2 separate regions of the Homo sapiens genome follow, and region 2 is linked to region 1. A link means that fine-mapping ties the variant in region 1 to the expression of a gene that starts in the linked region. Tissue or cell type: whole blood. Region 1 holds a variant in brackets; the other region holds the start of a gene. All regions are shown on one strand. Distances are between the middles of the regions.

Evidence for each region. PIP is the estimated chance that this variant, and not a neighbour inherited with it, causes the effect.
Region 2: LYAR starts here. The variant in region 1 is fine-mapped to the expression of LYAR in whole blood (INTERVAL, PIP above 0.99).

What each region holds. Positions count from the first base shown.
Region 1 is chr4:4,265,739-4,273,842 of GRCh38, reverse strand. It overlaps LYAR (Ly1 antibody reactive), which reads left to right. Exons shown (of 10, transcript NM_017816.3): 8 at 174-260; 9 at 5,228-5,313; 10 at 5,820-6,142. The coding sequence ends at 5,954. Among named protein-coding and RNA genes, the nearest start is that of LYAR, 20 kb to the left of the region's middle. RefSeq lists a silencer at 4,265-4,442. The variant A/G (reference allele first, on the strand shown) is at 4,151.
Region 2 is chr4:4,286,494-4,294,597 of GRCh38, reverse strand. LYAR (Ly1 antibody reactive) reads left to right here and starts at 4,444. Exons shown (of 10, transcript NM_017816.3): 1 at 4,444-4,562; 2 at 8,026-8,079. ZBTB49 (zinc finger and BTB domain containing 49) reads right to left here and starts at 4,347. Exons shown (of 8, transcript NM_145291.4): 1 at 4,246-4,347. RefSeq lists enhancers at 5,419-5,956, 5,957-6,495.

The DNA of each region.
Region 1 (8,104 bases):
CAGCATGGAGGAGGATAAAACCCTCCTGGGGTTTTATAAACCGGGGCTGGGCAGCTTGGAGAAGAAATGAGATGATACGTGGAGTTTGCCTAGCTCGCATAAGGTCTCATTAAATGGTAGCTGCTAGCGTAAATGCAAAATCTTCTTTAAAAAAAATCTTTCCAAATACTTAGTTGAAACAGATTCTAAGAAGAAAAAGATGAAGCTCCCAGAGCATCCTGAGGGCGGAGAACCAGAAGACGATGAGGCTCCTGCAAAAGGTATATCACTGCTGTCATTTGAGGAGCACGGCTGGGCACAGCGGCTCTCGCTGATAGTCCCAGCTACTTCAGAGGCAGGGGCAGGAGGGTCACTTGAGCTCAGGAGTGTGAGGCTGTAGTGAGCCATGGGCGTACCACTTTCAAAAAGCGAGAGAGAGAGAAAAGAAAAGAGAGAAATACACGGTCCCTTGTAGGTTGGGAGAGGGGCCGAGAGATGCCCCCTTCTGGGGAAGGAAGGTGTAATGTGGGCACTTCTAGTAGGGTCTTACCCTCCAGAGGTATATATAAGAATTTGAAAGTAAAATCAGTTCTCTAGGGTGTGTGAGTCAGTCTTACAGTGCCTCTCACCCACTGTCTTTAAGGAGAAAAGTAAAGCAGTCTGGTTTGGAAATGTATGTTATCTTTGAAATTTAAATAAGCCCAATATAGCTTTCTGAGACCCGGTTCCCTTTCGCTCCTCCCCAACTCTCTTGCCCCTGCCTTTCACTGTTCTCTTAGAAGTCCCCTGAACTGTGCCCCTGCCCATCTCTGGGCCTGTTTCTGGGGTCTCCTTGCTTGTATCCTCAACCTCAGAATCCAGTCCCTGGCCTTCACGGGCCCTCTGAAATGCTGTCTCTTACACAAAGCTTCTCTCCTGCTTCTTCAGGCCTGAAGCACTCATACCTGTCGGGAGGTGGCAAGTCGTCATCTCTCTGCCACCTCCCCCAACCCCCAGGATCCTGCAGTTCAGAACAGGTCCAAAGACTCAAATGGGCCTGCAGCTTTATTAGCAGAGTTCAGTGACTGCCAGCATTGGGTTAGATCTCTAAGCTTAAAACCCCCTTCTCAACTTAGTAAACAGTAGTGTCCCCATATCTGTGGGATGGAAAATTCCAGAAATAAACAATTGATAAGTTTTCCATTGCATGCTGTTCTGAGCAGCATGGCGAGATCTCTTGCTGTCCTGCTGTATGCCTTCTTCACCACAAGAAGGGTGAGGATAGGACAATAAGATATTTAGAGAGACACAGAGAGACCACATTCACATAACTTTTATTATAGTGTATTGTAAAATTGTTCTATTTTATTATTAGTTATTGATAATCTTTTACTGTGCCTCATTTATAAGTGGAGCATTGTCATAGGCATGAATGAATATTTAGGGAAAGACAGTATATATAGGGGTTCAGTACCATTGTGATTTCAGGCATCCACTGGGGGTCTGGGAACTGTCCCCTGCAGATCAAGGGGGACAACTGGAATGGTTATTTTTGTTGTTGTTGTTACATTTTTTGTTTTGAGATCCTTGTAGACTCACATGCAGTTGTAAGAAATAATGGAGACTCAGGCGTCCTTATGTATCCGCGTACCCTTTACCTTGTTGCCACCCAGGATAACACTTTACACAACTGTAGTACAGCATCTCAGCCGGGATGTTGACATGGATACGCTTCCATTTCCATCGCCATTGCGCAAGGCTGCCTCCTGCTGCCCTCTTGTAGCCACAGCCACTTCCCTCTCACCCCCACCCCCTCCTTAGCCTCTGGCAATCACTAATCTGTTCTTCATTTCTGGAATCTCCGAATGTTCTATGAATGGAATCATACAGTATGTAACCTTTTGAGACTGACTCTTCGCTCAGCGTTTTTCTCTGGAGATTCACCCAGGTTGCTGAACTGACCAATATTCATCTTATTGGTGAGGAGTATCCCGTGCTGTGCGTGCATCACAGTCCTTTCATCATTCACCTGTGGAGGGACACCTGGGTGGTTTCTAGTCTCTGGTTATTAATGAATAAAGCTGCAGTAAACATTGATGTGCAGGTTTCTGTGTGAACTAAGTCAGTTTTTCTGAAGCGAATGTTCAATGCTGTGTCATACAGTAGTTGCATATTCTTTCTTTTCTAAGAAACCACCAGCTCAATAACTAATGCTGGCGAGGATGTGGAGAAAAAGGAACGCTGGTGCACTGTTGGTGGGAATGTAAATTAGTACAACCACTATGGAGAACCGCTTGGAGGTTCCTCAGAAACCTAAGAATAGAGCTCCCGTCCAATCCAGCAGCCCCACTGTTTGGGTATATATTCAGAAGAAAGGAAATCCCTGTGTTGAAGAGATACCTGCACTCCCGTGTTTGTTGCAGCACTATTTACAATAACCAAGATTGGAGCAACCTATGTGTCCAGCAGCAGATGAATGGGTAAAGAAAATGTGGTGCATGTACACAGCGGAGTACTATTCAGCCATAAAAAGAATGAGATCCTGTCGTTTGCAGCAACGTGGATGGAACTGGAAGTCATTATGCTAAGTGAAATAAGCCAAGCACAGGAAGACAAGCATAGCATGTTTTCACTTATTTGTGGGATCTAAAAATCAAAACAGTTGCCAACTCATGGAGATAGAGAGTAAAAGGATGGTTACCAGAGACTGGAAAGGGTGGTGGGAGGCTGTGGGAGAGGTGGGGATGGTTAATGGGTATCAAGAAAATAGAATGAATAAGATCTAGTATTTCATAACACAACAGGGTGGCTGTAGTCAATAATAATTTAATTGTACATTTTAAAATAACTAGAGTATAATTGGATTGTTTGTAACACAAAAGGATAAATGCTTGAGGTGATGGATACCCCATTTACTCTGATGTAAGTATCATACATTGCATGTCTGTATCAAAATATCTCACGTGCCCCATATACACCTGCTGTGTACCCACAAAAATTTAAAAAGGAAAAAACTGTCAGCTGTTTCAGGAGTCTCTGTACACATTTTATATTCCCAGTAGCAGTGTGTAAAGGATCTAGTTTCTCCACATCATGGTCAATATTAGGCGTTGCCACTGTGTTGTATTTTCGCCATTCTGATAGATGTGTGGTAACCGCTCATTGTGGTTTGAATTTGTGTGGCCCTAATGACTAATGTTGTTGAGCACCTTCTTCTGTGCATATTTGCTATCTGTATATGTTTTTGTTGAAATGTCTGCTCTCTTTTTTTAAATTTTTTTCCCCTATTTTCTAATTTGAGTTGTTTGGGGTTTTTTTGGTTGTTGTTTTTGTGGGTTTTTTTTTTTTTTAACTGTTGAGATTTTAGTTTTTAAATTTATTCTAAATAGTACTCCTTTGTGGGACATAACAGTTTGTGAATTTTTTTTCAGTCTTTTTGCTTGTTTTTTCATCATAACAGAGTCTTTTTAGGGCAAATGGTTTTTATTTTGATAAAGTTCAATTTATCAATTTATCTTATGGATTGTGCTAACAACTCTTTACCTAGCCCTAGAGCCTAAAGATTTTTTTGTTTTCTAAATTATCTTAATGGATAACTTTTTTTTTTTTTTTTTTTACAAATCAACATTTTATGTAGTTCAGGTGTACAATTTAATGTGTTACTGTATTTTATTTTTATTTTTCGAGACAGGGTCTCACTGTTGCCCAGGGTGGAGTGCATTGGTGTGATCATGACTCACTGCAGCCTCAACTTCCTGAGCTCAAGCAATCTTCCTGGGTAGTTAGGACTACGAGTACACACCACCACACCCAGCGAAGTTTTAAAATTTTGTGACGGAGGTCTTGCAGTGTTGCCCAGGCCTGTCTTGAACTCCTGGGCTCAAGCAATCCTTCTGCCTCAGCCTCCCAAAGTGCCTGGATTACAAGCATGAGCCACCATGCCCAGCTCAACTTAATGTTTTATTATACATGTACATTGTGAAATAGTGACTACAATCAAGCTGATTAACACATTTATCACCTCACATAGTTTACGTGTGTGTGTGTTGAGAACACTTAAGATATATCCTCACAGCAAATTTCAGGTCTATGTTAAATGCCTCCTAGTCTTACATTTTTTATTGAAGTCCATGATCCATTTTGAGTTAGTTGTTTTTGTAAGGTGTGAGATCCTGTTTACGCTTTCTGTTTT[A/G]ACTGGCTTTCTCTCACATGACTTTGGTGGTTGTGGAGGGGCACGGCCTTGTTGCTGTCAGGTGGGGGCGGAAGTCCAGGCTCTCTACTCAGCCTCCATCCACACCTGAGGATGGCCACTTCTTGCTCCTGCCGGGCAGGGCTCCTGGTGCAGGTTCCACTGACATCACAGCAGGGGCAGCCTCATGACCGGCCTGTGTGGATGAGACCCCTGAATTCCTGCTTGGCCTTCTGTGACACCGTCCCTCATTACAGCCTTGCGAGGGTAGAGAACTCAGGCTCGCCACTCGGCTTTTGCTGGTGCGGGTGGGGGTGGAGCCACCGTTTTTTCTGTGATGTGTGGCTGCAGTAGGGTTGTTATTATACAAAAGTTTTCTGTCTTGCTAGGCTGCCGTTTCCCGGTCCTTTGCCAAGAGAGCAGGCTTCTGTTGGGACTGTTTTGTCTGTGCTGTTGGTGTTCAGGTTGCTGGGTTCTTCAACTCCAGATCTGGGGTACAGGCAGCAAGAAGCTCACCCCGTGTTGCTCTGCAGGCCCCGAGGTCCCAGCTGGTCTCTACCTTTCAGAGTCTTCTTACATTTCTTGCCTATATAGTTTCAGGGTTCTCAGTTGTAGTGGGCAGGAGGAAGGGGAAAGTGTGTCCACTCCATCTTCCCAGAAGCAGAAGTTCCCTAGATGAGTATTTTTAGTTCCTCTATAATAGTTTGTGGTTGTCCTCTCTCTCATTTCAGGTCAAGCTGTTTTGCTCATCTTTGTCCTCCCTACTGTGCATGGACAGCCCCATGATCTTAGTGGATGCTTAGGAAATCTGTGTTGAGTTCATTACATACAACTCTATCTAGGAGTTTGTCATGCCAATAGCACATGGGCACCTGCTCACTCTTAAGAGCCAGTCCTTTGAAGGGTAGTGAGTGCTTCTAGGACATTGGAATTGAACAGATGCTTGGTGCTATGGAGTCTGGTTCATTAGAGGGTTAGCTCATTTCCTGGGAAGCAAATAGGTGTTGCAGAAGTTGTTTCTTTACCCTTCTCGTAGTACAACAAAACGAAATGTCTTAAATATTATTATTTATATTGTAGGTAAATTCAACTGGAAGGGAACTATTAAAGCAATTCTGAAACAGGCCCCAGACAATGAAATAACCATCAAAAAGCTAAGGAAAAAGGTATGGCATATGAACAAACCCACGTGTCTAACAGCTGGGGAGAACTTATTTCTAAATGTACAATTGTTTGTTTTTTTCTTTTTTCACCTAAAACACTGAAAATCTGTGTGTGTGTCTCAGTGATTTTCAAGCTGCTCCAAAGCCCCACACAGCCTCAGCCAGGGTGGTGCCTAGATTTTGGGCTTGTTTATAAGACTTTGAAGAGAGGCTCCATTTATTTAATTTTTATTGTTTGGAAATTATTTTCTAGATATTTGCTCTCTTTTGCCTATCCCAGAGCAGTGGTTTCTTCTCCTTTATTTCACTTTGTTTCTCAGGATGACTCACACATGGCCAAACCCCTGCACGTGGCTGCCGCCTGGGTTTTCCAAGGAGAGCACGCCGGTGTCGCTTGCTCCTGGGTTTCTTTTATTTTTTCCTGTTGTTCTATTTCTGGGTTAAAGACAGAACATTTTAAGATAATTTTCCAGGTCAAATACACTCATTTGATGTTTTTCTTTGTGAAGGTTTTAGCTCAGTACTACACAGTGACAGATGAGCATCACAGATCCGAAGAGGAACTCCTGGTCATCTTTAACAAGAAAATCAGCAAGAACCCTACCTTTAAGTTATTAAAGGACAAAGTCAAGCTTGTGAAATGAACATTTGTGTATTTAAAAATTGAATCCATTCTGCTGACTTCTTCCTTTCACTGCTGTTTATAAAATGTGTAATGAATTCTAACAACTCAAATTTTGCTTTTTGAAGCTGTATTTTTAAGTTAAGAAAATATATTTTTGGTATAACTTTTATGAGAAAAATAAAATATATTCTGGTCCAAACTTCTAAATTTGTTGTGGCAAAAATTACTGAACTTTACAAAATAGTTTTGTGTGAAAAAATTTTTTTCAATGTAGTGCAGCAACAAGTAAAAAAGTAATTCCTCTTTTGATCAGACTAAAAAGTATTCATTTTAACCACATCATTTCTACACTTTGTTGTTATTGTTGTTTGAGAAAGGGTCTCTGTCGCCCAGCCTGGAGTGCAGTGGCACAATCTCAGCTCACTGCAACCTCCATCTCCCAGGTTCAAGCAATTCTGCCTCAGCCTCCTGAGTAGCTGGGATTACAGGCATCCGCCACCACACCTGGCTAATTTTTATATTTTTAGTAGAGCCAGGGTTTCACCATGTTGGCCAGGCTAGTCCCAAACTGACCTCAAGTGATCCGCCTGCCTCGGCCACCCAAAGTTCTGGGATTACAGGCATGAGCCACTGTGCCCAGCTATTTCTACACATTTTTGATTAGAGATGTTTTGTGCGTTTGTTTTTTGTGTTGTTGGAATGTGTATGTGAACTGCGGGAATGGTCATGACAAGAGTCTTGTATGTGTTAATCCTTCTGTAGCCAGAAGTATGGTGCTATAGAGGAGGCTTCTCTGTAACAGGTTCACCCATCCACACTGGCCCCATCTACCTTCAGCCAAAGAGACGAGTTTGTCAGTGGCTGGATTCAGGAGCATGGCCTGTGACTGGAAGCGAGAGGCACAGGGAAATAGCTCATTGGAGACTGAATCTCTTGTGCAGCTGTGTGGCTGCTCCAGTGCTCTGATTGGACTGAATGCTTTCAGAAACAGTGTTTGAAGTCCTGGTTGATTGTGCTGTAGGACAGCCTTTTTGCCACCTCTTGGATGGTTCAGTAGGTTTTGCCCACAAGACCCTTAAAAGCTGGTCCTCTGGTACAGATCACCCCTTAGCCAGTTTCATTAATATCTCATCAATTCCCCACAAAAGCAAGTCTGGGACATGGAACAAGTAGTTTAAAGGGTTAGGACGGAGAGGAGGGATGAGAGGGAGGACAGAGGCCCTGTCTGAGCCTCTGAGTGCCCAGAAGCCCACGGAGCAGCTTCACTCTGGGACTTGCCAGCCAAGCCAAGCAGCATCTTGAGTTCAGTGCTTATTAGGCGATGTGCCACATATAAGTGTAGTGACGGCATTGAGTGGCACTGTCAGAATGAGTAGGACTCAGGCTTCAGAATCAGGCCCAGAGTCAGGTCCTGACTCTGTCCCTTATTGGCTAACCTCTGAACCTCACTTTTCTCAGCTGGACAATGGGGATAGTAAAGGTTGTGAGTGAATGAACTAATTCACGTAAAGGACACAGCATGTTCCCTTATTAGACACAATAGATCCCCTCAGTGGGTGCTGTCACTACTCTTACCGTTACCAGTAACAATTTTTGGGCCATGAGAAGCTTTAGACATTCTGGAAAGCAAAAGAAAACTGAGAAAGTGAAACAACCCAGACCACATACCTAATTAGGGACAAAAGCAGAACAGAGCTGTGACTCCGCAGTCCAGTCCCGAAGTCTTCCTATGCCAGCACTCCAGGGAGCAGAGGGAGGTGTGCTCTGCAGTTATCACCCGGGCACAGGGGAGATGCAGGGCCACCCCGTGAGAGTCACATGATGTTCTACAAGCGCCATGGAATTTCAGTTTGTGATTGTATTAGTTTGTTTTCACTCTGCTGATAAAGATATACCTGAGATGGGGTAATTTATAAAGAAGAAGAAGTTTAATGGACTCACAGTTCCACGTGGCTGGGGAGGCCTCACAATCATGGCGGAAGGCAAAAGGCATGTCTTCCATGGCGGCAGACGAGAGACGAGAGAGAATTTGTGCAGGAAAACTCTTTATGAAACCATCAGGTCTCGTGAGACCTATTCACTATTACAAGAACAGCACAGGAAAGACCCGTACCCATGATTCAATTACCTCCCACCGGGTACCTCCCACAACACATGGGAATTGTGGGA
Region 2 (8,104 bases), 21 kb before region 1:
GGATCACCTAAGGCTACGAGTTCGAGACCAGTCTAGCCAACACGAAGAAACCATCTCCACTAAAAATACAAAAATTAGCCAGGCGTGGTGACGCATGCCTATAATACCAGCTACTCTGGAGGCTGAGGCAGGAGAATCGCTTGAACCCAGAAGGCCGAGGTTCCAGTGAGCCGAGATTGCACCACTGCACTCCAGCCTGGGCAACAGAACGAGACTCCATCTCAAAATAATAATTATTATTATTCCATATCATTTTGTATAGTTCTCTAAATTACTTCATGATGTCAATCCTGTACCTCCCCAGTAAGGTTATAAAAAGGTCTGGAAACCCCAATAAGGTTATTAAAAGGTCTGGAAACCCCAATGAGGTTATAAAAAGGTCTGGAAAAAAAATTGTATCTTACATTTCTTATGTGTTCTGTCAATTATAAACAAAAATGTATCTTATACCTAATAATAGTAATGATTATGACAAATACTTATGTTTCCTAGATGCCAGGCACTATTCTAAGCCCTTTACACTTATTAACTCATTTACCATAAGATAGGTGCTACTATTATCCACATTTTACAGGTGAGGACAATGAGGAATTTGTCAGATTTAAGATGGCCACAAATTCTCCGATGATTCTCCCATGGGGTAGTGGAGTCTAGGTCTCCTTCCCTCCTGCACAGGCTCTGCCTTAATCAGATTCTGTGCTACAAAGCTGTGCTCATTTCCCAGGCCCAGGCCTTTAAAGAGCTAACAGCTTCCACTTCCCATCTTTCAGAACAGTGGCTATGGAAGGCCTGAGCCACCTGTAAGATGCCCAGCTAGAGAGAACACATGGAGACAGAGAAGGGTTCAGCTGGCTCCCAGGAAAGCCATCCTGACCTCTCCAGGCTGGCCCCTCCTCCAACTGAATGCCACTGAGTGATCCCAGTTGACACCACATAGAATTGAAGAATTTCTCAGCTGACACCTGCCTGAATACCTAACCTGCAGAATTATGAGATAAAATAGTTTTTGAGTCACTAAATTTGGGGGTAGAGTGTTACACAGCAACAGAAAACCTGACCATATACAGAGAAGATGGTCACACAGCTAAAAATAGGTAAGTAATAAGGGACAGAGGTGGGATTCAGAGCCAGGGAATCTGACACCAAAGCCGCATTCATAACCACTGTTTCCTTTGATCGGAATCAGCTGCCTCTTCAGTCTACTGCCTATGCCTGATTGTCCAGGTAATCCCACAGACAAGCTTTGCATTAAGGAACTGCACAATTCAGGACTAAGATGTGCTACACAAGGTGTTATAGCGTGAGAGAAGGAGCAGAAGGTTCTCTTCCATCTTTGCGACTAACTCACCTAGTGACAAGCAGTAAAAATTTTCTGTGGTGAAGACATGGACTCCATCTGTCTTATTGAACAATGTATCTCTGGTGCCTAGCAGAGTGTCTTTGACATAATAGGCACTCAATACATATTTCTGGATGGATGAGACTCTGGGCCTCAGTTTTTCATCTATAAAAATGGAGAGGTCCCCTATTGGACTAGATGATCTCTTTTAGAGGTTTTTTCCTAGTTCTAAAAGCTACAAATCTATACAAGGAATGTGATGGTGGAAAGATGGTATGAATGGCGTCAAAAAATGAAAATATGGGGGGAAAAGAAACAAGAAAAAGTTTAGATCAATGTGAATGAAGAAATGCTTCTAAAGAAAACAACAGCCAGAATGGAATTTCAACCTGCAGAGAGGACTCCTAGAGCAAAGGCCCCTCAATTCTACCAACAGGTCAAATACTACTGGATAGAATTTGTGGATGTTTTTTCAGCAGTGCCATTAATAGATTACTTCTCCAAGGGCCCACAGTTCACGCACCTTAAAGTCAAGCTTACCTCAGAGGGCTCCTAAGGAGTCTGCCCATCATCATACTTTCCAAATGGCTTACTTGTAGCTCCTCACCTCCACCCTACTCATAAAAGCACTGGCTTGAAGCAACAAACCTGGAATCTTGTCTTAGCTTTATGCTGACTCTTATCATACTGGGAAGGCCAATTGGGTTAAACAGATACTGTGTGCCTAACATGTGCAACAGATTGTCGCGAGGATGGAATGCTGACAAACGGAACAGATGTGTTCCCTACTCTTCACAGGCTCTGTGTCTCAGTTTTCCATCATTCACTTAACTTTACACAATGCCCATTATGCGCTAGGCACTGAAGGTACGATGGCAAACACATCAGATACGGTCATCCATGTCTTCATGAAGCATCAGTCTAGTGGGAAAAACAAGTATCGTTGCACTGTACCAGAGTTATTTTTTATTTTTTTCCGAGACGCAGTCTTGCTCAGTTGACCAGGCTGGAGTGGAGTGGTGTGCTTTCGGCTCAGTGCAACCTCCACCTCCTGGGTTCAAGCGATTCTTCTGCCTCAGCCTCCCGAGTAGCTGGGATTACAGGCATGCACCACCACACCCAGCTAATTTTTGTATTTTTAGTAAGGACGAGGGGTGGGGGTCTCACCATGTTGGCCAGGCTGGTGTCAAACTCCTGACCTCAAATGATCCACTCGCCTCAGCCTCCCAAAGTGCTGGGATTACAGGCATGCGCCACCACACCCGCCTAATTTTGGTACTCTTAGTAGAGATGGGGTTTACAGGGTTTCACCATGTTGGCCAGGCTGGTCTCTATCTCTTGACCTCAGGAGCTGCCTGCCTCGGCCTCCCAAAGCGCTGGGATTACAGGCGTGAGCCACCGCACCCAGCCCTGTACCAAAGTTATTAAATGGAGGAAGCAGAAATTAATTTGGGAGGGAGGGTCAGGGAAAACTTCCTGGAAGACACATCTATGCTGAAATGTGAGTTAAGTTTGCCAGACTAAAAAAATGAGAGGGCTCACTTTCTTTGAGTATTCAGGAGGACAAACAAACAAACAACAACAACCAAACCCAAAAACAGTACGAGAGCACAAACAAGACTGAAGTACACATATGTGCCCTGAACACAAAAAACATCTTGAGCACCCTGCTTTTAAGCCTCCTGGCCATTCTGTCACTTCTGTTGGAAAGTATTTCCCTCCTTGTCCATTTCTGTGAATTCCTTCTGTTATGGTTAAACTGTTCCCCCAGCACTCCAGAATGTGATTGTATTTGGAGATCAGGCTTGTAAGAAGGTAATTAAGTTAAAATGAGGCCATTAAGGTGGGCCCTAATACAACCTGACTGACGTTCTCATAAAGAGGAAATCTGGATGCAAAGAGAGACGCCAGAGATGTGAAAACACAGAGGAAAGACCATGCGAGGACACAGCAAGAAAGCAGCCACGTGCAAGCCAAGGAGAAATGTCTCAGAAGAAACCAAACCTGAAGACACCTTGATCTTGGACTTCTAACCTCCAGAACTGTGAGAAAATAATAAATTTCTGTTGTTTAAGCCACCCAGTATTTTGTTTGCAGTCCTAGCAAACTAATACACCTTCTATTCCAGGCCCAACACTGCTCACTTTCAGAGTGAAACCTTATCACCCATATACACACACCTTGGGAGTGAAGGTTTCTCACAATACTCTGTGCATCCTCCACTCAACTTTCATTCATTCATTTAAGCAACAAACACCTAGTGACCACCACTGTGTGCCAGACCCTGTTTTAAGGGCTGAGAAGAGCTAACGTTTATTGAGTACTTACTAAGTGGCAGCCACTAGTCTAAGCGATTTACATGCACCAACTCATGAAATACGACAAGGTTCCAGGGACGCAGGTGCCGCTATGACATTCGCTTTACAGATGCGGGGCTGAGGCACAAAGAGGCCACACCGTAATGAAACTGAGCTAGGCTGTGGGCTCTGTCGTCTTAAGCGCTACTCTCAACTACAGCGTGGAAGGAAACAGAAGCCGAGAGATGGGCAGCGCGTAGCGGAGGCGGGCCGGGCTGGCTTCCAGCGGGCAAAGCCTGGAGATGAGAGGGCGCGGGTGGGGTTTCCAGGCCGAGGAAGCTGCACCAGGGAGAAGGCCCGGCTCCCAGGCCCGGAACCTGGCCGTCTGGGTCTCAGTCCGCGTCCCCTGTGATGCCCGGCACAGAGCAAATGCTCGCTGACTCTCGCAGGAGCCGCCAACCCCCCGGGTATCCTCGAGTGCCCAGAGACGGGAAGGAGCGGTGGGTCCATGCCCTTCTGGGCCACCTTCGGGCGCCCGGCCTCCCTTCCCTTCCGGGCCATTCCCACCAGCGCCAGCCCCGCACGCCTTCGCAAGGCCGGCCACCTTACCCTCGGAGGCCGCTCTCTGCCCCGCCGCCTACTCTTCACCTGCAGCAGCTGCCTTCAAGGCCACTCGCAGCGATCCGCTGGCCGCGGAATCATCACGACAACGCCCCCTTGGCTTGCCGGAACCGCCTTCCTGCTTCCGTTGGCGTCACTTCCACTGGGGGGGGCGTGGCCGCGGTGCGCAGGCGCGCTGGGTGGTTCAGAAGCGAATTCTGCACCGCGAAGCCTGAGAGGCAGGTAGCTGCGGCGCTGGGCTGGCGGCGGCGAGTCCACGTGCTCCCCGCGGCCGGTTGAAACCGTTGGCGGGCGCTGGCTGAGAGGTGAGGGGTGGTGGCCCAGAGGTCCGACCTGGGAGGCTGGGGCTCAGAGAGTGAGTAGGGGAGGGACGGGATTTCCACCGTCAGCCCCTCTGGGTTACGCATGGAGGAAGGAGTTCCATTCAGATCTCACTCCTGCTCTGGGGAAGTGGCAGGAGTCCTGGACTTAGGGTGACCAACTCGTTTTAGTTTTAAAACTTAAGGTCCGGCGTCCTGGGAACTCCCTCGGGCCTGGCCAAACCAGGACGATTGGTCACCGCCCGACTGGGCTTCAGGCTTGCTGCATGTTGGAGACAGGGCTCTTCTCTGAGCCTTGGGAGATCAGTCCCTAAAGAGGAGGCCTTAGGATGTAGCGGTCCAGAGCACATACTTAGGATCAGAATAACTACTGCGTGTGAATCTGGGTTGCCACTACCTGGATGTGGGATGACCTGGTGTAAGTTTTTTAACCTCTTTGCGCCTCACTTTCCTCATCTGTCATAACATATAGAATCTAACTCGGAGAACTGTGATGAGGATTACATGAGTAGAAATGTGTTAACCTCCTATGAGAGGGCTTGGGTGCTCCATGAATGTTAGGATTCTCTGAAGCACCTACCTCTGAGGAGAGAGGGAGGAGGATGAGGTGGGGTCTGTATTTGCAACCCTGATTTCTAGCAGAGAGGGCCCACTTGGGACTTACTCACACTGTGCCCGAGGCTCCCAGGGTCTAGCATAGTGCCTGACACATGGTAGTTACTCGAGTGAAGGGATGGTGTTTAAAACAGTGCTGGTGATGCCGTGGGTGGGGTAGGAGGCAGAGAGAAATGGCTTCTGTGCCTCAGTTTGCTCATCTGTTTAGTGGAGATAGGTGCACCTACTTCCCAGGGCTTTTGCAAGGAACAAGGGAGAGATTCTCTCCTTGTGAATGTCACCCATTGTAACCCTTGTCAGCCTCATACACAAAGGTTTAGGCAGGATGGTGGACAGAGTATGTTTGTCTGTCCTTCTCTTGCACCATACCCATGGTTTCTCAGAATGCTACCCGTGGAAGGGGCTTGAGTCTTGTCAAGTTGGCCTGACTTCTTGTTTCACAGATGAGATAACTTGAAGTTTATAGAGGCAGTGGCATGCTCAGGGTCACAGTGTTCAGTGGGGGATATCCTGGGGTTGCCAGCTAGGCCCCTCAGGTGGGCTGTTTGAGTGGTAGTGGTGGTAATGATGTGTAGGTCAGTGTCTGCATGTGCATGCAAGAATATTTTAAGAATAGTCAAGGCCAAGCGCAGTGGCCCGTGCCTGTCATCCGAGCACTTTGGGAGGCCGAGGAGGGTGGATCACCTGAGGTCAAGAGTTCACAACCAGCCTGGCCAACATGGTGAAACTCCGTCTCTACTAAAAATACAAAAATTAGCCGGGCATGGTGGCATGTGCCTGTAATCCCAGCTACTGGGGAGGCTGAGGCCGGAGAATCACTTGAACCTGGGAGGCAAAGGCTGCAGTGAGCCGAGATTGCGCCATTGTACTCCAGCCTGGGCAACAGAATGAGACTCCGTCTCAAAAAAAAAAAAAAAAAGAAAAAAAATTGAATAAGTAATACAAAAATATAGAGGGAAGAAGATTTAAAAAAAATCATTCCAATCTCAGAACCAAACCTAAGGGCATGTTATCAGGGAACTTGGTAAAGTAGGCAGCCATGGGGTGAGGAGCCAGAGAAGGTTGGAGTGAATTTATGAACATAAATGGGTGGGTTGATGGTCATATTTAAAGGAGCATGGGTTTAGGAGGGGGCTGGGTATAATAGCATTGATGTGCAAATTAGTAGGTCACAGAGAAACCTTTCTACAATTGGGCAGGGATGAAGCTTTCATATCTGGTGTCTTATTTAACTTTCCACCCAATGCTTTGAGTTAGGTATTAGATCCATTTTACAGATAAACAGATTCTGGGAAGTTAAGGTGCTTTGAGGTCATTTAGTTTTTAATGACTTTTTTGACATTAGCAGATGTAGGCTCCAGCTCAGATCCTCTACACCTGAGTCAGGGCCCTGTCCAACAAAAGCTGGCAACCATCTTGTTAAGAGAAGACTAACAAGTTCCCAGCCCCTTAGTGACCACTGGCTGCTGCCCCTCAGCTAGCTTTGCTGTCCAGACCCTGACAGCCTCTCCTGTGACATGGGTGGTCTCCTTGCCCACTGCACAGAGGTTTTATAATTAAGACTTAGGGTTCTAATATTTATACATGGAAAGTCATCTTATAGAGACCTTAATTTTTTTTCTCTTTGGATGAGGACCTCAAGGTCCCAGGTGCTGAGTAACCACCAAGCAAACGGCTAGGACATGGCAGGTCAAGATGGAGGCAGGGTGGGAGCCTGGGCTTGCTGCCTGGTCTTTCAGGCCACCTCTGCCACTTACTGTGACTTCGGGCAGTTCACTTACCCTCCTGAGCCTTAGGTTTTCTCTCCAGATGGAGGTAGTATGATCATAGCAGTCTTAGTGGTATTGGGGGCAGTTGTGTTCATAAATGGGACACGGCTTTGTAGAGAGCTAATGATCATGTGTTCTATGGTGCAGACCCCGTCATCTTTTTCATGGGTATGGCATGTGATGAGAGCTCAGTAAACTGACCATACAGACAGACGAAGACGCAGCCAGGAGCACACGCAGAGGACCTGCGTGAGGGCCCCAGGTGTATCTGGGTGGATAGGATAGTGTCAGCATTCAGGAAATGTCTGCCGAATTGAGTTAAAGTGACTGAGCAAGAACCGAAGTATGCTCTCAACCAGTCCAAGAACACTGCCTTCTGCCTGCCTTTCTCTTTTAACATGCGCATGTGGCCAGAAGGAAAGCATGTAGAATCTCTCTGGCTGCGCTGGGACTGGACATTGGGCAGAGGGAGTTGGGGAGCCAGGGAAGGAAAAGAGGACTCTATTTAGATCCAGCCCCATGAAAAAACTGCTGTCTTTTTACACTTAGGGCTAGATGTTGAAATCTGTCACATCTGAGCCCGGCAGACTGGGTGTCCTCAAAATCTTAATGCAGTTTTAAGCTTTCATAATTTCAGAAGCATAAATGATCCAAACTTGCCAAAACATCATTTAAAATTTAATTAAGGCCGGGCGCGGTGGCTCACGCCTGTAATCCCAGCACTTTGGGAGGCCGAGGCAGGCGGATCACGAGGTCAGGAGATTGAGACCATCCTGGCTAACACGGTGAAACCCCATCTATCTCTACTAAAAAATACAAAAAATAAGCTGGGCGTGGTGGCGGATGCCTGTAATCCCAGCTACTCGGGAGGCTGAGGCAAGAGAATGGCATGAACCCGGGAGGCGGAGCTTGCAGTGAGCCAAGAATGCACCACTGCACTCCAGCCTGGGCGACAAAGCGAGACTCCTTTCTCAAAAAAAAAAAAAAAAAGTTTAATTAAATTTCCTTCATGCTTATCTAGTCTTGTGGAATTTGAACAATACCGTTTTACTTTTTTGTTTTAGGCAATGTTTGCTGTCTTCCATTGGAGTGACTGAATTTCTACATGACGGCTTTTTGTAAGTTTGTAGTATTTACATTTTT